Homo sapiens: one gene and its partners. The protein of the gene in region 2 interacts with the protein of the main gene of each other region in a pairwise test. Each region holds a gene or a part of one and is shown on either strand. Other genes may lie near its edges.

Evidence for each region.
Region 1: the proteins of SLC35A1 (region 2) and CD53 interact in binary tests that used the Homo sapiens proteins (3 or more experiments, as listed by UniProt).
Region 3: the proteins of SLC35A1 (region 2) and EBAG9 interact in binary tests that used the Homo sapiens proteins (3 or more experiments, as listed by UniProt).
Region 4: the proteins of SLC35A1 (region 2) and MGST3 interact in binary tests that used the Homo sapiens proteins (3 or more experiments, as listed by UniProt).
Region 5: the proteins of SLC35A1 (region 2) and F2RL1 interact in a two-hybrid assay, tested with the Homo sapiens proteins (one large-scale study listed by BioGRID and IntAct).
Region 6: the proteins of SLC35A1 (region 2) and SDC3 interact in a two-hybrid assay, tested with the Homo sapiens proteins (one large-scale study listed by BioGRID).
Region 7: the proteins of SLC35A1 (region 2) and ASZ1 interact in binary tests that used the Homo sapiens proteins (3 or more experiments, as listed by UniProt).

The regions. Positions count from the first base shown.
Region 1 is NC_000001.11:110,890,148-110,893,647, reverse strand, and holds part of CD53 (leukocyte surface antigen CD53), read right to left. Parts: intron 2,257-3,500; 5' UTR 2,240-2,256; coding exon 2,177-2,239; intron 1,304-2,176; coding exon 1,115-1,303; intron 1-1,114. UniProt on the Homo sapiens protein: Structural component of specialized membrane microdomains known as tetraspanin-enriched microdomains (TERMs), which act as platforms for receptor clustering and signaling.
Region 2 is NC_000006.12:87,500,474-87,503,973, reverse strand, and holds part of SLC35A1 (CMP-sialic acid transporter), read right to left. Parts: intron 3,467-3,500; coding exon 3,307-3,466; intron 2,817-3,306; coding exon 2,664-2,816; intron 1-2,663. UniProt on the Homo sapiens protein: Transports CMP-sialic acid from the cytosol into the Golgi apparatus, functioning as an antiporter that exchanges CMP-sialic acid for CMP. Binds both CMP-sialic acid and free CMP, but has higher affinity for free CMP.
Region 3 is NC_000008.11:109,546,673-109,550,172, reverse strand, and holds part of EBAG9 (receptor-binding cancer antigen expressed on SiSo cells), read right to left. Parts: intron 1-3,500. UniProt on the Homo sapiens protein: May participate in suppression of cell proliferation and induces apoptotic cell death through activation of interleukin-1-beta converting enzyme (ICE)-like proteases.
Region 4 is NC_000001.11:165,634,234-165,637,733, reverse strand, and holds part of MGST3 (glutathione S-transferase 3, mitochondrial), read right to left. Parts: intron 1-3,500. UniProt on the Homo sapiens protein: Displays both glutathione S-transferase and glutathione peroxidase activities toward oxyeicosanoids, as part of cellular detoxification as well as synthesis of bioactive metabolites.
Region 5 is NC_000005.10:76,825,530-76,829,029, forward strand, and holds part of F2RL1 (proteinase-activated receptor 2 preproprotein), read left to right. Parts: intron 1-3,500. UniProt on the Homo sapiens protein: Receptor for trypsin and trypsin-like enzymes coupled to G proteins.
Region 6 is NC_000001.11:30,877,759-30,881,258, forward strand, and holds part of SDC3 (syndecan-3), read right to left. Parts: intron 2,333-3,500; exon of another isoform or gene 1,183-2,332; coding exon of another isoform or gene 1,171-1,182; intron 983-1,170; coding exon 865-982; intron 1-864. UniProt on the Homo sapiens protein: Cell surface proteoglycan that may bear heparan sulfate. May have a role in the organization of cell shape by affecting the actin cytoskeleton, possibly by transferring signals from the cell surface in a sugar-dependent mechanism.
Region 7 is NC_000007.14:117,375,494-117,378,993, forward strand, and holds part of ASZ1 (ankyrin repeat, SAM and basic leucine zipper domain-containing protein 1), read right to left. Parts: intron 1-3,500. UniProt on the Homo sapiens protein: Plays a central role during spermatogenesis by repressing transposable elements and preventing their mobilization, which is essential for the germline integrity.

The DNA of each region.
Region 1 (3,500 bases), on a different chromosome or scaffold from region 2:
CTCCAGTTTAAGAGTTGACCCATACAGACTGGGCGCAGTGGCTTACGCCTATAATCCCAACACTTTGGGAGGCCGAGGCAGGTGGATCACCTAAAGTCGGGAGTTAGAGACCAGCTTGACCAATATGGAGAAACCCTGTCTCTACTAAAAATTCAGAATTAGCCGGACATGGTGGCGCATGACTGTAATCCCAGCTACTCGGGAGGCTGAGGCAGGAGAATGGCTTGAACCCGGGAGGCGGAGGCTGTGGTGAGCTGAGATCATGCCATTGCACTCCAGCCTGGGCAACAAGAGTGAAACTCCATCTCCAAAACAACAACAAGAAGAAAAAAACAAAACAAAAAACCACCACCAAAATGTTGAACCATAATGGAAAAAAGATTAACCAAATGATTTAAGGAAGAACCAATGTGATTAGAAACCCACGCCTATTGGTAGAGTGGCACTGTTACACCAAGCTCTGTTCTGGGAACACTACAGAAATGTAGAGCTCAGTGCTCTACAGGCACTGTGCTTACAGGCAAAACCTAAGCCTTAAGGTACTCCTCAGGATAGTACCTGATAGGGAACATGCAAAAGGCTGTAGCATCTCTCACATTAGACCTCAATGGCTGCAGCCAGAGCCCTCACCTAAGTTGGATCTCTCTACGGAGTATCTTGTGCAGACATGAGTTAAGGAAGCATCCTTTGGCATTTGGGGAGGAAAGAGCCTAGAAATTATTTTCCATTAGTTAGCGACTCTCAGTCAGAATCTGAAAGTACATAATAATAGCTAGCATGAGGAGGATTTTGGAAGATGGATGACACCTGATTTCATCCAGACATAAAGAAAAAATAAAATGCTATAAAGGGGAATTACAATAATGACAAAAGTCATTATTAGCAATATAAAAATGGCTACAAGGGGGATAGCAATGCCCTCTTTCACCTGTCCGTGGGACCCTAGTCATACATAATATACTATTGGTCTGGGCAGACTTGGCTGATCTGAGGTACCAATCTCATTTTCCTATGATCTTTCTGTGCCTATAAGTGATCTACCAAGAAACATCTTGCCTGGGATTTAGGCACCATCTCCCCGACTTGGGGCACCACATCTGCTGTAAGGACTCACCGACATAAGCAGACACTTGTTTTCCTTGATAGAGCCCATGCAGCCCAGGAAGGCAACTACCATGATAATAGAGCCCACGATGACAAACACATTGCCCAGCGTGAGGGAGGGGAGGTTATGGAAGAGCACTCCGAAGTTGTTGTGGATCAGCAGGTAGATCCCAAAGCCCAAAATGCAGCAGCCACAGATCTGAAAGGAAGAATCCCACAACATCCTGAAGCAAAATGTGGTTCTTGGGTATCTCCTCATATTCTCACTTCCTTGAGATCAGAATCACTTTATTTTTAACTGGCTCAATCAAGAGTCTCATGAACAATTTCTTTACCAAACTTTTCCATGCTTACATTGGAGAGGCAATCTCAGCTTTCTCATGTGGAGACCTACTCACAACTCTTCCTACCCATCTCCAGATACCAAGGAAAGATCACTTCTGTGAGCCACACAGTATCTTCACCATATATAGGTCTAACTTCTTTTTCCTTATCTTTTCAGTCGCTCACACATGGCTTTCTCTGTAGAAACCATGACCATGTAGAGAAGATGCCCTGCTTGAGGAAGCTCATCTTGCTAGGCAGAAAACTAGAGAAGCCAAACTTATAATAATCTTCTCATATACACAAGTACCAACCCATCCTATATCTGAAATTCAATTGCTGAATTTTATACAGTGAAACCTCCCTGGAAAGGGTGACTTTCCTTTCAATCACTTATTGTTTCAAGGAATCTAGAAAAAAAGACAAGAAAAACAGAGGCACTCAATATCCAGAGCACAGTCTCAGGTTTCTCACCTATATATGTTAGCTACGAGTAGTAGTAAACTAAAGCCCTCAGAGAGAAACAGCACCTCCATTAATAACTGCACTGGTACCTTTCAATTTTGCAGGTTTATTCTGTGGCAGGAAGAGGGGAAAAATTATTACTCTTTTGTTTCTAGGATGGTTGTGCTGGACATGACCCAAACACGCATGCATTTTACCCCACACCAGCCTCTTCAGTAGAGGAATGAGGAGAGCTTAGCTGGGTAAAGGTGAGCTAAACCGTGCTCAGAAGAGATACACTTACCCAAAAGAGCAAGTTGAAGAAAAACAGGACATACTTCAGCAGTTTCAAGCTACTCATGCCCATGCCGTGATATTCTTGCCCTAAGGAATAAGGAAGAAGAAAGTAAGTTACCTCACTCTGTAAGGTAGCCAGAGATCAGAGTGCACAAATGTTCAGGGATCTCTAGCATTACCTTGGGTTTGAGCTGTGGCTCTCCTCTGGAAAGTTTCCCCAAACTCTGCGCTTTCCTAGTTCTAAACTGAAATACCAACTGGCTCATCTTAGACATTCAGTTTTTGCCCAATTCGGCAAGCCAACAATGCTTAACATTGAATTAAGTATTGTAGAAGAAAATAGAGCCATTCTTAGAAGAGGATGAGTCACAGTGACAGAGACCAGGCCAGTGCTTTAGCTCTAACTGCAGCATTAGCAACTAGTGCCTGGGCACTTAAGCCCTTGAAGTCAGGGATGGACTGGTCAATCAGCCATCAAGAAAGCCAACAGCTTGATCAGCCAGTTTCTTAAATACTCTGTGATTTATGTACATGCTACATTTGATCAGTAAACTTCTCCACATGAAAGTAGGGGGAACATATCCACGCCTCATTTATTCTTTTATTGCAGAAACATTTATGTTTTCTGTTCTAGATGTTGTGGAAGATGCAACCATGACTAAGCAGTAGCTATCCTCCAGAAGACAACAGTCTTACAGCAAAGATAAAACAAGCCAACAAATATGCAATGGGGAAGTAAAAAGAGATAGCAATGTAAGCTTTATTTTTTTCAACTAGAATATCATTTTCTTAGTGAGGACATCAATGTCCAATGTCTGGTTCTCAATTCTAGAAATCCAGATACAGAATTTTGACTTTTCCTTTTCGCTTTCCTTTCCTTTCTCTTTCTCTTTCTCTCTTTCTTTCTTTCTTCTTTCAGGGTCTCAATCTGTCACCCAGGCTGGAGTGCAGTGGCACAATCTCAATTCACTGCAACCTTCACCTCCCAGGCTCAAGTGATCCTCCCACCTCAGCCTCCCAGGTAGCTGAGACTAAAGGCATGCACCATCATGCCCGGATAATTTTTGTATTTTTAGTAGAAACGAAGTTTCACCATGTTGCCTAGTCTGGCCTCAAACTTCTGACCTCAGGTGATCCGCCTGCCTCGGCCTCCCAAAGTGCTGGGATTACAGGCATGAGCTACCGCACCTGGCCAGAATTTTGAATTTTCTGTCAGAGGTAATGATATTCTATAAAGTGACTCATTTTTAAAACCGTGCACAGGACTGATATATCAAGCAGAATGTTGGGGCAGTGATTTTTTTCCATTAAAATTATGCCTTTTCCAGTGC
Region 2 (3,500 bases):
TATTTAGTGCATTATAAATGATTGCAGCTGTTATTGTTACATTGATTACCAGCAAAATGTTAGAACAGATTTAGAGATGACTTGTACTTAAAAAGCTTAATGGTCATCAGTGGAAAATAGTGTGACTTCACCAAGTGTGAAACATACCAGATTTCCTTACTGAAAGGACTCCTAATGTTAAGTGATGAGGGGAATTCCATAGAGATAATGTTTGGCAAAAAATGTGACAGACTTGCATATTATTGTTATTATTATTATTATTGAAACAGAGTCTCGCACTATCACTCGAGCTGGTGTGCAGTGGCGCGATCTCGGCTCACTGCAACCTCTGCCTCCCAGGTTCAAGCGATTCTCCTGCCTCAGCCTCCTGAGTAGCTAGGATTACAGGCGCCTGCCACCACGCCCAGCTAAGTTTTTGTATTTTTAGTACAGACGGGGTTTCACCATGTTAGCCAGGCTGGTCTCGAACTCCTCACCTGGTGATCTGCGACCAGCCACATAATATTTTTATAGACAACACAGAACTGTAGTGAGGATAAAGGTACAATCCGTAAGTGTGTGAATGCTCATACAGAAAAATGGTAGTTAATTGAACAAAATCAAGCTAGGCCATCAACCAATACCAACTTGCCAGGCATATAGATAAGCCACGTTAGAAACAGATCCTCCAGCCGTAGTCAAGTCTTCAGTTGACTGCAGCCCTAGCCAGTATCTTGACTGCAACCTCAAGCCAGAACCAGCTAGCTAAGGCACCCTCAAATTCCTGACCCATAAAAACTATGAGAGATGATATGTTCAGTAAGCAAGAAAAAGATCAAGCTAGAGAGAATTCTAAAGGTACAGCCACAGAACTCTGGTCCTGTTCTACCTAAAATTTTCATTAAAGACCCAGAAGGCATATTTTTTTTGACTCTGGAAAGCGTAATACCCAAAGGAGAAGCTAATAATGGGTAAGAACTGGAAATAACTCAAGGGGCTGAGCAATGACCCAAAGCTAACAAGAAGAGCTTAATAAATACAAACTCAACCTGCATTCTGGTTTAGAATAAGCCAGAGTTTGAGTTCTAGTGTCAATGAGAGTCTATTCCAGTCCTGACACTTGGAACCCACTTAACCAGTAGTGGAGGAGTGCATGGCAGTGCAGACAGATTGAGGGAACAGTGGGGTGAGAGGGATACAAGATACATTTGAGACAAACTATTTGGGTGACACAGTTACATGTAGTGGTTTATGATCAATTGTAAAATAGATACTTTGCCTGCCCCCCAGAAATTAACAGTCATGTACCACATAATGACATTTCAGTCCATGATGAACCACATATAAAACAGCGGTCCTGTAAGATAAAACTATATTTGTGCCTTTTCTATGTTTAGGTACGCTAAACTTACCACTGTGTTACAACTCGCTACAGTATTCAGCACAGTAACATGCTGCAGAAGTTTGTAGCCTAGGAACAATAGGCTATATACTGTACAGCCTAGATGTGTAGTAAGTAGTCTATACCATCTAGATTTGTGTAAGTATACTCCATGATGTTTGCACAACAGTGAAATCACCTAATGATGCATCTCTCAGAACCCTGAACTTACATTCTTTGTTAAGCGATGCATGACTGTATAACAAGTCTCCGGTATTCAGAACAAAGGGGTAATTACCAAACTGTGCCTCGTATTACTTAGACAACATTGGGAGACAGTGGGGTTTTAGGATATATTGAGAAATAATGACAGATGAATGCATCTAGGAGAAAAATATAAGGAAAAGTGTAGGGGCAGAAGGCAGGGATCAGGAAGTCTGTCTAGAAACCATATTATAGAAAGAAACAGTAGGGTTTTAATTGGGGAAGGAGGGGACCTGGAGGGTGGGGATATGATACTGTTCACAAGCACTGTACATCCCAGCCGCCTTCCATTCCTAAGAGAACCATAGTCTGTTTGCTAAAAGTTAGAGTAAATATTCAACTGTAGGAAACTCCTGACCTTCACAAAACTATTCACTGGCATCCCATTTCCTGTTTCTCTTTGGGGAAATAACTGATTGAGGCATACAATGTAAGAAAAAAAATCATGTATGTATCTTAGCGTTAACTCTTTAAAAATCTGTTATGTACCTTCACATTAACTCTTAAAAACTAAAGATAATTATCAATTATCAGTAAGAACACTCCTTCCCTTGTCATCCTGATCACTGACAGTAGGGAGATGTGCCAGAGACTGACAGTTGAGAGAGAAGATGAAAACTAGATGCAGAAAAACCTTGCCCAGTGTTTCTGAGATGTTTGAAAGAGGTCTAGAAGTTCTAAACATATACAGTATGGAAACTGGCACAGTTGTGGTCACAAGTTAGCTATTAACTAATTTAGGACAAGTTCCTTCACCTCTTTGGGGACTGTCATCCATAAAATGGAGGGGATGGAACACATTATTTCTAAGGTATGTTCCATCTGTAACATATTTTATGCATATTCTCCTCTGAGAAACAACCAATAAGTATTATTATCCCTAATAATATGCTAAAGAAAAAAGGCCTATCTATAAGGCAAAAGTTATTTTAAATCAAAGAAATGTAGTCATGCTGCATGCATCAATGTAACTGAACAGTATAAGACTTAAGGAAGTTTTCTATTTATGGGAAGTTATGGTGTGCATTTTGTTTCTTACCACCACTTTTGTAGCTTGGGCTGGTTTCCACTGTACAAGCGTAACTCCAGCACACAGCATAAAAACTGAAACCCACTGTAATTTGCTGAGTGTCCGGTTTAACATTAAAACAGTGCATAAAGCAGTACACGGAATCTTCAACTGGTAGGTCACCTAAAAAAAAGAGAATGAATTAATAAATTCAGTTAATGTTAGTCTCTGATACAAATATATTATTTCTGGTATCATTGATAAAATTATCAATAAAAAATATTTGATAATGGCCGGGCACGGTGGCTCACACCTGTAATCCCAGAACTTTGGGAGGCCGAGGCGGGTGGTGGATCACGAGGTCTGGAGATCAAGACCATCATGGCCAACATAGTGAAACCTCATCTCTACTAAAAATACAAAAAATTAGCTGGGTGTGGTGGCATGTGCCTATAGTCCCAGCTACGCGGGAGGCTGAGGCAGGAGAATCGCTTGAACCTGGGCGGCGGAGATTGCAGTGAGCTGAGATCACGTCACTGCACTCCAGCCTAGACGAAAGAGCGAGACTCCATCTCAAAAAAAAAAAAAAAATTGATAATATGATAAAGAGTTAATAAAAACTCTTTTTACCATAAAAGATTCTGTGCTTTTCATTATCATTAACTCCACTTACCTGGTACACTGCTGCATCCAGATTGCTAAGAGCTAGGAAAGCCATGTTGTTCTGAACAGCATACACTAACGATGGCACACTTAACTTCAACAGTTCCTTGGGGCTCCCCAAGACATTTTCTCTTAAAGATGCTTTGAATCTACCCAGACTACCAGTTTCTCTTTGAAAACAAAAGGGGGAGATGAGAGGGTGGT
Region 3 (3,500 bases), on a different chromosome or scaffold from region 2:
AAAACTACTCAATTGAAAAGGCAGCAGGAAACAAAGAAAAGAGAACAAATAACACATGGGACAAGCCAAAAACAAATAAGATGACAGACGTAAATCTAACCATATCAATAATCTCATTAAATGCAAATTGTATAGCATTCCAATTGAAAAGCAGAGATTGTTAGATTGAATAAGAAAGAAAGACCGCCCCACTCCATGTTGCCAATGAGAAATGCATTTTAAATAAAAAGACACAAATAGGTTAAAAGTAAAAGGATAGGAGAAAATATACTATGCTAGCACTAATCAAAAGAAAGGTGAAGTGACTATTTCAATGTTAGACAGATTATAGGAAAAATAACATTACCAGGTATAAAAGTGGTCATTTCACAGTGATAAAGGGGTCAATTAATAAAAAGTACATAACAATCTAAAACACGTGTCCTTAATAACAGACTTTTGCCAATATCATAAACAAGACAGATAACATTGTTAGAGTCTGCAGATATTAAAAGGATACTGAAGAACTATTACAAACACCTTTGTGCCTGTATTTACTTGACAAGTGAGATGAAATGGACAACTTCCCTGAAAGACACAAATTACTAAAGCATAAGAAGAACAACCTGAAAATCTATATATCTATTAAAGAAATTATATTTGTAGTTATAAAAATCTCCCAGACACAGATGGCTTCACTGGTAAATTCTACAAAACACTTAGGAAGGAATAATACCAATTCTATACAAACTGCCAAAAAACTGAAGAAGGAATATTTCCCCAACTCATTATTTGAGGCCAGTATTACACTGATACTAATCCAAAGATATTACTAGAAAAGAAAACTATTAATATTCTATGAATCTAGACACAAATCTCCTTAGCCAAATATTAGTAAATTAAATCCAACAATATATAAATGGATACTACATTGTGAAAAACTGGTGCTTAGTTTGGAAATGTTGGATTGGTTTAACATTTAAAAATCAAATGTCATTCACTATATTAGCAAACTAAAAACAAAAAACCATATAAACATCTCAATAGAGACAGAAAAAGCCTTTGACAAAACTCAACATCCATTCCTGTTAAAAAAAAAAATTGCAGCAAAGTATAAGGGAACTTTCTCAACCTGATCAAAAACATCTATGAAAAACCTACAGTAATATGAGACTTAATGGTAAAAAAATTTGATAATTTCTCCCTAAGATCATGAACAACACAAGCATGTCTGCTTTTTCTACTTTTAGTCAACATCGTAGTGGAAGTTCTGGCCAATGCAATCCAGCAAAAAAAAAAAAAAAAAGAAAAAAGAAAAAAATAGAAAAGAAATAAAAGGCATCCAGAATGGAAAGGCAGAAATAAAAGTGTGATATTCTATGTGGAAAATTCAACGGGATCTACCATTAATTGTATTTCTATACGTTAACAACAATCAATAAGAAATTGAAACGTTAAAAAAATTTATATAGGCATAAAAAAATGATACTTGAGGACAAATCTAATTAAGGACTTGACTACTGAAAACTATCAAATATTGCTGAGACAGTTAAAAGGCCTATTAATTTAAAAAGACTTTTTCAGAGACAGAATATTTTTATTAAGATATCAACATTTCCCAAAATGAGTTATAGATTCCAGGCAATCTCAACCAAAATCTGGGCAGGTTTTTTCTTTAAAACTTGACAAGCTAATTTCTAAAGTTCATATGGAAATGCAAAGAACGTATATAACAGCCAAAACAACATTGAAAAAGAACAAGGTAAAACAGCTAGCACTATCTGGTTTCAAGACTTGTTATAAAGCTTCAGTAATCAAAACTGTGTAGTATTGGAATCAAAATACACGAATAGATCAATGGAAAGTAAAGGAATAGACCCACGTATATACAAAAACTGAAATCTGATAAAGATGCAAAGGTAATTCAGAGAGAAAAGAATAGTTATTAAGAAAAAAAAAGTGCTGGTTAAACTGGATATCCATATCCATATGGAAAAAATCAAAACAAAAACCTTCTATATATATCTGGCACCAGTTAAAAGTAATTAAAAATAGATTATAGACCTAAATGTAGTCTGAAACTACAAAATTTGCAAGAAAAAAAAACAACACAACTTTGTGACCCTGGGTTAGGCAAAGATTTTTAGGTAGTACAACAAAAGCACAATCCATAAAATAAAAGATTAGTAAATTGGATTTTATCAAAATTAAAAACTACAATTCAAAAACACTATTAATGGAATGAAAAGACAAATCACAGACTGAGAGAAAAATCCTTGCAAAGCATATGTCTAATAAGGGACTTAAACCCAGAATATATAAGAACCTCTCAAAATTCAAAAATAATTTTTAAAAACTCAATTTAAAAACGAGCAAAAGGTCTAACTAGACATTTCATCAAAAAACATATACAAGGCCAGGCGTGGTGGCTCACACCTGTAATCCCAGCACTTTGGGAGGCCGAGGCGGGCGGATCACGAGGTCAGGAGATCAAGACCATCCTGGCCAACACGGTGAAACCCTGTCTCTACTAAAAATACAAAAAATTAGCCGGGCATGGTCGCGGGCACCTGTAGTCCCAGCTACTCAGGAGGCTGAGGCAGGAGAATGGCGTGAACCTGAAAGGCAGAGCTTGAAGTAAGCCGAGATCACGCCACTGCACTCCAGCCTGGGCAACAGAGTGAGACTCCATCTCGAAAAAAAAAAAAAGAACATATACAATGGTAAATAAGTAGATTAAATGATAGTCAACATCTTTAATCATTAGAAAAATGCAAATTAAAGCCACAGTGAGAAATTATTACATACCTACTGGGATGATTCAAACTAAACATAATGACCATAGCAAGTACTGGTGAGGATTTGGAACAACTGGCACGCTCACACTTTGGTGGTGGGAAAGTAAAATGTACAACCACTTTGAAAAACAATTTGGTAGTTTCTTACAAAGTTTAACAAACATCTACCATATGACCCAGCCATTCTACTCCTAGTAATCTACCCAAGATAAAGAAAAGTATATAGCCATATAAAGACTTGTATTTGAAGGCTGAGGCAGGAGAATAGCTTGAATGCAGGATGCGGAGGTTGCAGTGAGCTGAGATTGAGCTACTGCACTTCAGCCTGGTGACAGAGCAGGACTCCGTCTCAAAAAAAAAATTGAAATAAATAAATAAATAAAAGACTTGTATTTGAATTGCAGCTTTATTTTTATTTAATAGCTCCAAACTGGAAACAACACAAATGTATATCAACAGGTGAGTGGACAAACAAATTGTAGTATATAAATACAACAGACTACTTACTACTCAGCAATAAAAAGGAATGAACTATTGTTACAAGTAATAGCATGACTATATCTCAGAATAATTATACTGAATGAAAAGAGTCAGACCACCAAAAAAATATACACTGTATGATTCCATATATAGTATTTTTTAAGCTCTAGAACAGGGGTGTCCAATCTTTTGGCTTCCCTGGGCCACACTGGAAAAAGAATTATCTTGGGCCACACATAAAAT
Region 4 (3,500 bases), on a different chromosome or scaffold from region 2:
AGGTACTTAACCTCTAGAAATTTTACTGACAGAGTTTCCTGGGAACACAGCTATTCAAATACCAAAATGTTGCTCAACCTTTCCTCTAATTCTTGCTTCTGCCACCATTTGACGTATCTTACTGGGGCAGGGTTCCTTTGGTTGCAAGGCTTACCCAGAAAGCTTCCTGAACTACATCCAATAGAACACTCCTGGGGTAAAGGTCTCCTTCACTACTTCCCAAATTCCTCTTGGCTGCCCATCAGAAATTCCCCAGCACACAATCAGCATTCCACAAACAAAGCAAAAGGCAGGCTTTATGGATTTGGGTACCTGCCTCAAATAATTTACCACTTCTGAGCCATGAAGTGACACTACCTTTTATTTTACTAAATGACAATGAGATTCTTAAGGGAGAGAAGATTATGTCTTTCAGCTCTCTCTCTTTGCTCCCAAATAAATAAAATCCAGCTTTGACAAAAGTAGTCCCTACTTCTGTGTATGATATTGCTCTCCTCAAATTGTACTGCAATTTCTCAACTGCTCTTTTTTTTCTTTTTAATGTGTCCAGGGATGGGACAATGACAAAGCATTCACAGATTAACTTGAAGCCATTCTCCAATGTTTCATTAAAATCCTTATTCGGCTGCCTGTGCTATTCCAATCTTCCTTACATGGCAAAAATCAATATTTTAATGAGAGTAACACACAAGGATAGTCACATAAAGGGCTAGTCTGATCATACCAAAAGGACTTCCCTGAGTCCCAAACACCAGACGGTAGCTTAGAACACTCTGAGGTGGTGCTGAGGGTCCACTTGGCTCACTTAAAGCTCCCCTGGATAGTTGTACAGCCTAACTTCTGCATCCAGATGTTTCCACGAAGGAACAAGCCTCAAAACCATCTCCAGCCAGGGCAGCTGACCCTCCATACAATGCTCAGCGGAGCTCACACAATGCTCAATGGAGAAATTAAAGAGCCTAGAGGGAAGTAACATAAAAACAATTTTTTTTTTTTTTGAGACGGAGTCTCACTGTGTTGCCAGGGTGGAGTGCAGTGGTGCCATCTCAGCTCACTGCAACCTCTGCCTCCCAGGTTCAAGTGATTCTTCTGCCTCAGCCTCCTAAGTAGCTGGGACTACAGGTGTGTGCTACCACGCCCCGGTTAATTTTTGTATTTTTAGTAGAGATGGGTTTTTACCATGTTGATCAGACTGGTCTCGAACTCCTGACCTCAGGTGATCCACCCACCTTGGCTTCCCAAAGTGCTGGGGTTACAGGCATGAGCCACCGTGCCTGGCCCATAAACGCAATCCTCTTGCTCATTACACAATGTATATACGTACTAAAACATCACACTGTATCTCATAAATATATCCAATATTATATATCTATTAGAAACAAAGTAAAACTTAAGCTGGGTGCAGTAGTGCACACCTGTAATCCCTGCTACTTGGGAGGCTGAGGTGGGAGGACTGCTTCAGCCTAGGAGTTTGAGTCTAGCCTGGGCAACATGGTGAAACCCCACCTCAAAATGACAACACACACACCCACACACAAAAACTTTAAAAATGTAATTATCTGTTTCTATGATAGGACAGAAAAGGAGAGTCATGGGATTTCTTTGGGTTCAGACTACATTTTCAGAATGCTAGTTCCAGTCCACTTCTACATTAAACAGATGCTAAAATCTGTTTGAGCGCCAAACCTTCATGACAGCCAGATTTAAATTACACTTAAAAGAAGGAACAGAAACCTAGGTAATGAAAAGTAACTATCCCCCGACAATTGCATTGCATATTCAGTAGATTGTTCCCTAAGGGCTAAAAACAAAAAGTTGAATAGAAATCATATTATTTATCCAGCACTTGATTACTGGTTCAAGTAAGGCAAATAGCAGCAAGCAGGTCCTAGAGTGGGTCTTTCACAGTACCTCACAGTCCATAGTCTTCAATATTCATCAATGTTGCTGGTGGAATATTTGGAGAGTGGAAGCTAACTATATGTTAGGAGGATGGAAGATCTGTCCCTTTAAGAGATAAATATGTTATAATCCAAATATATTCAACTGTATAGTTAAATAGCCATAGTTTGGCCATATAAAATATTCAAGTTTTAGATGTCGTTTTTATTCCAACACTTTGGTAAACTGTTGGTACTGAAAACAATTGCTTAATACATGGCTGCACTGGCTGGGAGTGGGGGAGGGAAGATCAGCAGGATGCTCAAGTTCCAGTGAATGGTTCTTGGTTATAGAGCACAAGCTTGCACTCACACGAACTCTGTTGAAACTCTGTTAAAGCCAAATAAGCAAATTACCTGCTTTCTTCTTCTCTGGAGTGTGCCTTCTGTGTAATAAGGCACTAAACACACATGCCTGATGAAATCTCCTCTGAGAAAAAACTGGTAATTCTGTTCTTCAGGAATCTAAGAATACTAGATTTATAACAAGACAGAATAAATTCCAGGTTCCCCTGCAGGTATAAGGACAAACTTTCCCAGATTCTTGACACAGAAGGTTCTGTGGGAGATACCTAACCTAGAAGCCCTGGGCTTTGCTAGACCCTTTGGAGCTGAGCTTCCCAAGAGATGTGATCCCAGGGACAACCCACTGGATGTTTCCCATGGTCTGCAGGCAGCAACCTCAGAGGGCGGGGTGGAGGGGGAGGGGAATGGTGAGAAGCCATGGGATACAGAAGGAAAAATAAAGACAACATCTCATAATGCATTAAATGAAGCTGATATGATAAATTCAATGTCGGACAAAGCATTTTACCTAAATGGGATGCTTGCCTCAAGTCCATAGCTATCATCTTCAGTATTTTCTCAGAATGATTCCTTCCCTTATTCATCCTTTACTAAATGCCATGTTCCACTCAAGGGGCAGGGCTACTATGAGAATGATCAAGAATGAGAAGGAAGGTCCTGACTCTCTAGAATACACAGTTGAGAGTGGGGGGGAGGGAGGGAGGGAGAGGGAGGGAGAGAGAGGGAGGGAGGGAGAGAGAGAGAGAGCGCATGATTGAGAGAGAGCACGAGTGAGCATGCAGTCAGGGAAGACAAAAACACAGCAGGACCATACCATAAAACATAAGGGTGACATTGCGACAAAGGATCTGAAGAGCATAAAGTGATATGTGAGAGAGAACACAGGTAAAGAAAACAGCAAGAGCAGAGACTTGGAGACAGAAAAAGGCTTGACTTGTATGAAGGAGAGAAAAGAGTCCAGTGTGTCTGAAGGGTAGTGATATAGACTAGAGGAAGAAAAGTAGGAGAAATCAATTATTATTACTTATTACCACCGTGCACAGTATTTAGTAAGGGGCAAACCTTGTTCTAAGCAGTTAGTTCATCAGTATTAACTCATTTAGATCCTCACAGCATCCCTATGATATTACTCCCATTTTGCAGATGAAGAAACGCAGTACCAGAAAGGTTAAGTGACCTGCCCAAGGTCACACAGCGATCACAGAGCACAGCCAGATCCCCACACCCCCAAGCAGTCTGGCTCCAGTTTGTGCT
Region 5 (3,500 bases), on a different chromosome or scaffold from region 2:
GAAATGGGAATGTAATTGTAGCCAGGCACTTTATTTGTGTTTAAACTTCATTTGTGCATTTAGTCTCTCCTCAACTCTGTGAAATAGAAATGATTTTACCTGGTTGACAATTGGGAGCTGGGATAGCATCGGTTCTCTAGACAAGCTCTGTGAGTTTTGGTGAGTGGTAAGGACCCTGTACAGAGTCAGAGCAAATGCACTGGGCAAGGGCTTCAGGGACCTTCGAGTAGCATCTTGACATTTACCAGTGTTATAGAACAGTTAATATCAACAATAGTTTTGATGGAGACCATTAAAGGTTATGTGTTGAAATATTCTAAGAAAAAGTTCCTTTTTAAAAAAAAATTGTTATATTGCCATTCCTTGCTCCTTTTTTGGTCTTTATTTTAGCATTCTTATTTAAAACAGATTTTGAGCACTCTTTATGTGAGCTTTCCTGACTTGGTACATGCTTATTTTTATGGAGAATTTTAATCTTATAGAAATATACTATTATAGTGAATTAAGTGTATCCACCACTCAACTTCAATAATTATTAACTGTTGGCTAATCTTGTTTCATCTATTCCCAAACTCACCTCCCACTCCTCTTCCCTGTTATTTCTTTTCTGTTTTTTTCCCTTTCCTATGATGCCAAGCCTGTGTTTTTTTTTTAACAGCTTTACCAAGAATTCCATATCAGATAATTTGCACACCATACAATTCACCCCTTTAAACTGTACAATTTAGTGGCTTTTAGGATGTTCATAGAATTATTCAACCATTACCACAATTTTAGAACATTTTTATTACCCTGGAAGAAACAGTTTAGCTGTCATTCACCAATCTTCTGGTCTTAGCCCTTGGCAAACACTAATCTACTTTCTATTTATGGATTTGCCTATTGTAGACATTTGATAGAAATGGGATAATGTGTTGTCCTCTGTGACTGGCTTCTTTCACTTAGCATAATCTTTTGGAGATTCATCCATGTATCTATGTATCAGTACTTTTTTTTTTTTTTGAGACAGAGTCTTGCTCTGTCACCCAGGCTGGAGTGCAGTGGTGCAATCTCTGCAACCTTTGCCTCTAGTTTCAAGTGATTCTCCTGCCTCAGCCTCCTGAGTAGTTGGGACTGTGGGCCCACACCACCACCTCTGGCTAATTTTTGTATTTTTAGTAGAGACTGGGTTTCACCATGTTGGCCAGGCTGGTCTTGAGCTCCTGACCTCAGGTGATCTGCCTGCCTCAGCCTCCCAAGTACTTGATTTTTGAAAACAGCCAAATAATATTCCATTGTATGGATATACTGCTTTTTATTTCTTTTCAATTGTTGATGGACATTTGGATTGTTTCCACTTTTTTTTCCTTTTTTTGAGACAGGGTCCTGCTCTGTTGCCCAGGCTGGAGTGCAGTGGTGTAATCTCTGACCTCCTAGGTTCAAGCTGTCCTCCTGCCTCAGCCTTCCTAGTAGTGGGACTACAAGTGTGCACCACTATGCCTGGCTAATTTTGTAAAATGTTTGTAGAGATGGGGTTCTGCTCTGTTGCCCAGGCTTGTCTCAAATTCCTGGCCTCAAGCACTTCTCCCATCTCATCCTCCCAAAGTGATAGGATTACAGGTGAGCACCACTGTGCCCAGCCCACTTGTTGACTGTGGGCTGGGCACAGTGCTATATTATAATGCTGCTATGGCTGGGCGTGGTGGCTCACGCCTGTAATCCCAGCACTTTGGGAGGCCGAGGTGGGCGGATCACAAGGTCAGGAGATCGAGACCATCCTGGCTAACACTGTGAAACCCCATCTCTACTAAAAATACAAAAAAAAAAAAAAAAAAAAAAAATTAGCCAGGCGTGGTGGCAGGCGCCTGTAGTCCCAGCTACTGGGGAGGCTGAGGCAGGAGAATGGCATGAACCCGGGAGGCGGAGCTTGCGGTGAGCCGAGATCGCGCCACTGCACTCCAGCCTGGGCGACAGCGAGACTCCGTCTCAAAAAAAAAACAAAAACAAATAATGCTGCTATGAACATTTGTGTACAGGTTTTTGTGTGGACTCCTGCATACCTGGGAGTGGAGCTACTGGGTCATATAGTAACTTTTTTTTTTTTTTTTTTTTTTGAGACGGAGTCATGCTCTGTTGCCCAGAGTGCAATGGCACAGTCTAGGCTCACTGCAACCTCCGCCTCCCAAGTTCAAATGATTCTCCTGTCTCAGCTTCCCGAGTAGCTGGGACTATAGGCGTGTGCCACCACACCCAGCTAATTTTTGTATTTTTAATAGAGATGGGGTTTCACCATGTTAGCCAGGTGGGCTCAAAACCCCGACCTCGTGATCTGCCTGCCTCAGCCTCCCAAATTGCTGGGATTACAGGCGTGAGCCACTGCGTCCAGCCATATAGGAACTCTTTAACCATTTGAGGAACTGCCAGATAATTTCCCACAATAACTGTACCTTTTATTTTATTTTATTTTATTTATTTTAAATAGACATGGTTTCACTCTGTCGCCCAGGCTGGAGTGCAATGGCGTGATCTTGGCTCATTGCAACCTGTGCCTCCCGGTTCAAATGATTCTCCTGTCTCACCCTCCCAAGTTGCTGGGATTATAGGTGTATGCCACCACACCTGACTAATTTTTGTATTTTTAGTAGAGATGGGGTTTCACCATGTTGGCCAGGCTGGTCTCGAACTCCTGACCTCAGGTGATCCACCCACCTCGGCCTCCAATAGTGCTGGGATTAGAGGTGTGAGCTACTCTGCCCAGCCGTGCACCAGTTCGTATTCCTACCAGCAGTGTCTGAGAGTTTCAATTCCTGTGGTTGTGAAATAAATCTCAGATATAATTTCATCCTAAAGTATTTTAGAATGTATTAATAAAGTATGAGGGATTTCTTTTTCAAATATAAACATAATGCCATTATAGTATCTACTAACATTAATTTTTAATATAATCAAATATTCAGTCAGTATTCAAATTTCTTTCTTTTTTTTTTTTTTTTAATATAGAGACAGGGGCCTCACTCTGTCACCCAGAGTGGAGTGCAGTGGCACAATCTCACTGAATCATTGAACTCCTGGTCTCAAGTGATCTTCCTGTTTCAACTTTCCAAGTATCCAGGACTACAGGTGTGCGCCACCATGCCTGGCTAATTTTTTTTTTTTTTAATTTTTTGTAGAGACACGGTCTTGCTATGTTGGCCAGGCTGGTCTCAAACTCTTGGCCTCGAGCAATCCTTCCACGTCAGCCTCGCAAAGCACTGGGATTATAGGCATGAACAACCGTGCCTGGCTTTGTGTTCAAATTTCTAATTGTCTTATAAATGTTATTTTAGGCCGGGTGCAGTGGCTCATGCCTGTAATTCCAGCACTTTGGGAGGCTCAGGTGGGCAGATCACTTGAGATCAGGAGTTCGAGACCAGCTTGACCAACATGGTGAAACCCCATCTCTACTAAAAATACAAAAATTAGCTGGATGTAGTGGTGTGCACCTGTAATCCCAGCTCCTTGGGAAGCTGAGGCAGGAGAAT
Region 6 (3,500 bases), on a different chromosome or scaffold from region 2:
TCCTGGGCTCGGAACCAGGCAGGAGGGAGGGGAGCCAGGGAACTTTGCGAATAGAGATGTGACCCAATATAAACGGGTTTTACAAAGATTAATTTGAAAGAGGCTCAAAGGACTTGGCTAAGGAGGGGAGACCAGAGGCGAGGGCTGTGGGGAGCCAGCTCTGTGGCGTGCAGACCCCGTACCATCTCCTCAGATGCCAGCCCGTGCCCTCACTGGGCCCAGTCTCAGCTGCCTTCTTTTTGCTACCATTTTGAGAGCTCCTCCTCTGTGCCAGACCCCAGCTTCCTATCCCAAACCCTCCTAGAGGCACTGAGAAGAAGTCGTATTTCTCACCATCCACAGGTGAAAATACAGGGATTCAGGGAGGGGGAGCACCGAGGGGCACACAGTTGCTACATGGCAGAGTGGGGTTCGCGGTGCCCTTCTCTCCCGAGATTCTGCTAGACCCAGCTGACCTGGCTCCCCTTCCCCAGGGCGGGGCCATCCCAGGCACCACTTGAAGCACCTGCCCTGTGTCATCACTGCCCTAACCCCACCATTGGCCACAGCTTATTGCACCTGACGGGACCACCGGAACCAAGCAAGGTCTGCAGAGAAAGCCACATAGCACACACAAAGATGCAGACGTGGGACCCTGGAGACCTGGACATTCTGGGCCCTGAGGTCCTCCCAGGTCTTGTTCTATCCCCAGAAGGATGTTCTGCCCTTCTTGTTCTGGGGATCCAGAGCAAGAAGAACTTGCCTGACCCAGGCAGTGAATGCCCCCTGCCTCACTGAAGCAAGCCCCCCGTGGGCTTCTCAGAGTTGAGGCTGGATACAGACTGGTCACTGCCCCCAGGCAGAGGTAGGGAGGGGGGTACTTACAGCCCGAGCCCGACCCCGAGTAGAGGTCATCCAGTTCATCATCGGGAAAGGAGTCATCATCCCCAGAGCCCTCCAGGTCCACGGGTCTCTCGAAGTTCTCACTGCGCCAGCGCTGGGCCTAGGGAAGGTAGAGGTGGACACAGGGCTCGGCACCCGAGACTGGCAGCCTGGGTGAGCCCAGAAGGGCGACAGGTGCCCTTGTGGGCTGAGTGACATCCACGTGGGTGACAGAGATCTTGTGTGTACCCTGAAGGAAAGTGCGTGTGTGAATAATTCACAGGGCAGGGGTGGGGTGTGGCAAGTCACCTGGGGTCCCATCCCAGAAGGCTTTCAGTGTCTGGCTGATGACTTTCTCTTAGAAACTGGTCATTTTTCATCTTGACTGCACATCTGAATATTGTGAAAACTAAATTCAGTGGTTCAGTAGGTCTGGGGTGGTCTCTGAGCAGCCGCAATGTTGGGCTGGCTGTGGGGAGCCCTGGGGCATGTGTGAGCAGGCGAGGGCTGGAATGGCCCTGCATTTGGGGCCCAGCCTCTCACCCCCTGCCACTGATGGGCCCCCTTCTGGAGTTGATACAGAGCCAGAGTGAGGATCTCAATCCTGTCTTCATATCCCCAGCCTCAACCACCTGCTCCAGAGCCCTGCCCAGCCCAGCCAGGGCAGGGAGCCAGGAGGTGCCCCCTCACAAAATGCACACACACACATAGTCTCAAAGTAATGAATTAATCAGTATTTACTTTCTACCAGTGAGTCATGGAGTGGAACAATTAGTGTAATTTCTCCCGTGACGAATTGCTGGGTCTTCCTCCTTTTTTAAACATTCTAGGAGCTCAGAGCAGTAGGGCCCAACTTTTCCCCAGCTCCCCTCTGCCCAGAAAGAAAAATACCCACGGTGGAGGAGCTAGAACTCCCCATGGCACTCCCCTCCACAACCTGAACCAGCCAACCTGGAGTCCCTGCTCCCTCCAGCTCTCTGGCAAGCAGCCTGAAGTCACACAGAAGAATGGGGACTGAGCAGGGACCCAGGCTCCGGCTCCTGCCCCTGCCCAGGGCTGTCTTCACTGTCTTTCTATCCTTCCCAGTAGGCTGGGCAGTGGCTGGGAGGCCTTTAGCTGGGAGGAGGGATACTAAGAGGTCTGTGGTCCCTGGAAGCCCCCAACTGAAGTAAATGTGGGTGCCAAAACAAGGGAGTCCCCAAGATTCCTCAGTGACCAGTGCCACTTAGCCCCTAACTTCCTGCTCCAAGAAAAGCCTGTACAAACCCAAAGACCTACCCCCATGCCACATAGACCCTTGAAATGACACACCCCAGAGACACAGCACATGCACAGACACACACTGAAACATGCTCACCTAAAAGCAGCCACAGAGGGCTCAGCGTGTCAGCATGCCTGGGGGTAAAAACAGCCACTCACATGGGGCAGGAGGAGCTGGGCCTGCTGTGCAGCTCTGAGCTCAGAGACAAGCATCGAGCCTCCTGGAAACCCATCAGCCTCCACTCAGGTAGCGCTCACCTACATACTATTCATCCCCAGCTCAGTAGCCATCGACATGACAACCGTTACCATGACGACCATCTTCTCCATGCTAACGACCAGGAGCTGCAGCTCCCCACAGAGATGGGGTGGTACAGGAGAGGGAGAGATCACGGGGGAACTGAGAGGATGACAGGGAAGGGGGAGGCAGAGACAGAGACGGTGACAGAGAGTCGAGGACTGAGGGAGGCCAGGGGGCAGAGGGGCAGAGACGGGGAGGGTGGGCTGGGGGTACGAGAGAAGGAGAGAAGGCAAGGGTGGGAGGCAGAGGGGAGAACTCACACATCCTAATTTAGCCTCATGCTGATGAGGCAAGGCTGGGGAAGGGGCCACCTCAGTAATTTTCCAAACCTGCTTCCAAGAGTACATTCTTTCCGAACAGCAAGCATCCCCAATGGCAGGGTGTGCAGGGGGAGGAACGGCCCAGTCACCCCTGAGCCCACCTGGGATGCTCAGCGGGAACTTAATGCGAGGACACCTGGGACCTGCAGGCATGGGCGCTGGGACTCATGAGGCCCTCTCAGGAACACTACAGAGGGGGTGCTGGTAGCTGCAACTCCCAGAGGGGACAGAGAAATAGGGGTTGGGGAACGGAGCCTGGGAGGCAGCAGGGAAAGCCTTAGAAGTCACAGAATGCCTGAGGAGGAGGGTGACAAGCAGGCTTTGACCCCCAAACGACCTCCGCATTTGCATAATCCATCATAATAAGCATAATTATCCATGCCATTCCCTTAAAGGAGAACTGAATCCAAAAGCCCCAGGACGCTGCCAGCTTCTCCTTGACCCTCACTGTGCCCCCTCCAGGTAAACACAACCCCCCCATGCCTGATAGGAGGCTTCCATACCCCCAAGACACGCGCGCACGCATGCACACACACACACACACACACACACACGACAGCCCAACATCCTCATGCATATATATTCTTCTGCATGTACTATGCACCCCAATGGATACACACACACACTATTAAGTGCAATGTTTGCCCACACCAATCTGTATACTCACCACAGCCTATAGGCAATACAGCCCAGCCCACACCAGCACACACTCACCCATCTACTTCACCCCTAGCTGCCTGTACACATGCCCTAGGGTA
Region 7 (3,500 bases), on a different chromosome or scaffold from region 2:
CTTATTAAAGTTAACTCTATTAATTTTTGAGAGATTTGCTTCAACCTGCCAAAGCCTTTAAAATCTTAATGCTCTATGTCTCCATCTAGCCACCAGTCACATGTAGCTACCGAACCCTTGAAATCATACAGTGTATATTCTCTGACCACAACAGAATCAAACTGGAAATCGATAACAGAAAAATCTCCAAACATGTGGACATTAAACACCATACACCATGGGTTATTTAGATAATCCATGGGTCAAAGAGGGAGTCTCAAAGAAAATAAAAATATACATAGAAGTGAATGAAAATGATCACACAATGTATCACAATTTGTGGAATGCAACTAAAGCAGTGCTGAGAGGGAAATGTAAAAGACTAAATGTTTACATAAGAAAAAAAGTCTCAAAAATGATCTAGATTTCTGCCTCAAGAATCTAGAAAAAGAGCAAAATAAATTCAAAGTAAGCAGAAGGAATAGTAAGAATAACAGCAGAAATCAATGACACTAAAAGCAAAAACAATAGAGAAAAGTTACTGAAACAAAAGAGCAGGTTCTTTGAAAAAAAATGCATAAACCTCTAGCAAGACTAACAGAGATAAAAAGAGAAAAGACAGAAATCGCCAATATAAAGAATGAAATGGGGTATTATAACAGATCCCACAGCCATCCAAAGAGTAGCTGGAAATACTAGGGGCAACTTTTGGCTTGATAAATTAGAAAAAATGAACCAAGTCCTTGAAAAACCACACATTACCAAAACTCAGCCAAAGCAAAACAGATATAACTTGAATAATCCTATGACCATTAAATAAATCAAATTGTAATTTAAAAGCTTCCCCCACAAAATATCCAGGTCCAGATGGTTTCACTGGAGAAATCTACAGAATGTTTAAAGAAGAGTTAATGTCAATTCTACACAATCTCTTACAGAAAATAAAAGGAGGGGGAATACATCCCAATTCATTTTGTGAGGCCAGTATTGTCCTGATACCAAAACCAGACAAAATACAAAAAGGAAACTTACAGAGCAATATTTATCATGAACTTAGACACAAAATTCTTAGCAAAATACTGGCAAATCAAATCCAATAATGCATAAAAAGAATAATAACCCACAACCACATGGGATTAATCCAGGTATGCAAGGTTGGCTCAATAGTTAAAAATCTAACAAAGTAACCATATCAACAGGCTAAAGAAAAAAGTCATATGGTCGTATCAGTTGGGATAGAAAAAGCATTTGAAAAAATTCCACAACCATTCATGATAAAAACTTTTAGAAAAATGAATAGCGCATAACTTCCCCAATCTCATAATCTACAAAAAAACCTATAGCTAACATCACAGTTAATTAATAGTAAAAAAGTGCATGGTTTTCTCCTGAGATTGGGAAGAAGGCAAGAATGTCCACTATCTACCACTCTTATCCAACATAATACTGAAAGTCTTACCCACTGCCATGAGGGAAAAAAAAGGTATACAAATGTGAAAGGAAAAAATTAACCTCTTTTTGCAGACTACATGATTATCTACATAGAAAATCTCAAACAATCTACAAAAAGCCTCCTAGAACTAATAACTGAGTTCAGTAAGGTGGAAATGTACAGTCGAGACACAAAAATCAATTGCACATGGAAACAAATAAAAAGAGAAATACCATTGGCAATTGTGCCAAATAAAATGAAATACTTAGGTATAAATCTAATGAAATATGCATGAGATCTGTATGATGAAAATGACAAAATGCTGATGAAAGAAAACAAAGGTCAGAAATGGTGGGTCAGGTTTGTCATCCCAGTACTTAGGGAGCCGAGGTGGGAGGATCACTTGAACCTAGGAGTTTGAGACCAACTGTGGCAACAAAGTGGAGACTCTGTCTCTACAAAAAAGTTCAAAAATTAGCCAGGCATGGTGGTGCATGCCCATGGTCTCACCTACTCAGGAGGCTCAGGCGGGAGGATCACCTGAGCCCAGGAATTCGAGGTTGCAGTGAGCCCTCATTGTGCCATTGTTCTCCAACCTGGGTGACAGGGCGAGACCTGGTCTCAAAAAATATATTTTAAAAAAAGAAAACCTAAAACTTTTAGAGATATCTGTGTTTATGAATTAGTAGAATTAACATAGCTAAATGTCAATTATACCTAAATTAATCAATAGGATTCATGGAATTACTACCACAATCTCAGAAAGGTTTTTTGTAGACATAGAAAAGCTTTATCTAAAATGTATATGGAAAGAAAAAGGCTCTAGAAGAGCCAAGATGATTTTGAAAAAGAACAAAATGGGAGGAATCACTCTTCCTGATATTAAGGTTTACCATATAGTTAGAGTAATCAAGACGTGGTACTTTCAGAGGGATAGACACATAAAGAACCCAGAATAGAGAACCCAGATTATACCCACACAAATATGTGCAATTAATTTTTGACATATAATCAAAAGCAATTCAATGGGGGAGGAACAGCCTTTTCAATAAATAGTGCTGGGGCAATTATCTATCCCCAGGTGAAAAAAAAAATGAACCTCAGCCTAAACCTCATAACTTTACAAAAATGAACTCAAAATGTATCATGGACTTAAATGTAAAACTATAAAACTTCTGGGAAAAAAGCACAGGAGAAAATCTTTGAGACCTAATTTCTTAAACTGTTCTTTAACCTGATACTAAAAATATGCCAAAAGTACTGTTCTGTAAAGGGAAAATTTGGTAACTTAGACCTCATCAAAATAAAAGTTTCTGCTCTGTGAAAGACCCCATTAAGAGGATGAAAAGAAAAATTACAGAGTTGGGAAAAATATTTACAAATCACATATCCAACAAAAGATTTCAATGTAGATAACTCCCAAAACTCAACATTAAAAAACAATTAATCCAACATAAAATGGGCAAAAGATACTGTTAGAATTTCACCACAAAAAGTACACATATGGCAAATAAGATATAAAAGGCTGTTTGACATCATTAGCTATTAGTAAGTGCAAATAAAAACACAACAAGCTATTACTGTATACCCATCAGAAATGGCTAAAAAAAATCATGCTAACACCAAATGATTGTGAGGATGGAGAGCAAACTGGATCACTCATAAGCTTGCTAGAAACATAAAACAGTACTGCCATTCTGGAAAACAGTTGGGCAGTTTTAAAATATACTAAATATGCAACCACCGTACAACCTAACAATTGTCCTCTTTGGCATTTATCCCAGAGAAAGAAAATGTATTTTCTAACAGAATCTTGTAGATGAATGTTCATGGCAGTTTTATTTGGAATAGCTAAAAACTAAAATCTACTCAAATGTTCTTCAATGGATAAATGGTTAAACAAACTGTGGTATATACATACCATGGAATACTACTCAGCAATAAAAAGGAATTAACTATTGTACTGATACATGCAACAACTTTGATGAACCTCAAGAAAATTAGGATGATTGAAAAAAGTTAATCTCAAAAGGATATATACTGTATGATTCTATTTATATAATATTCATGAAATAACATCATTAAAAAG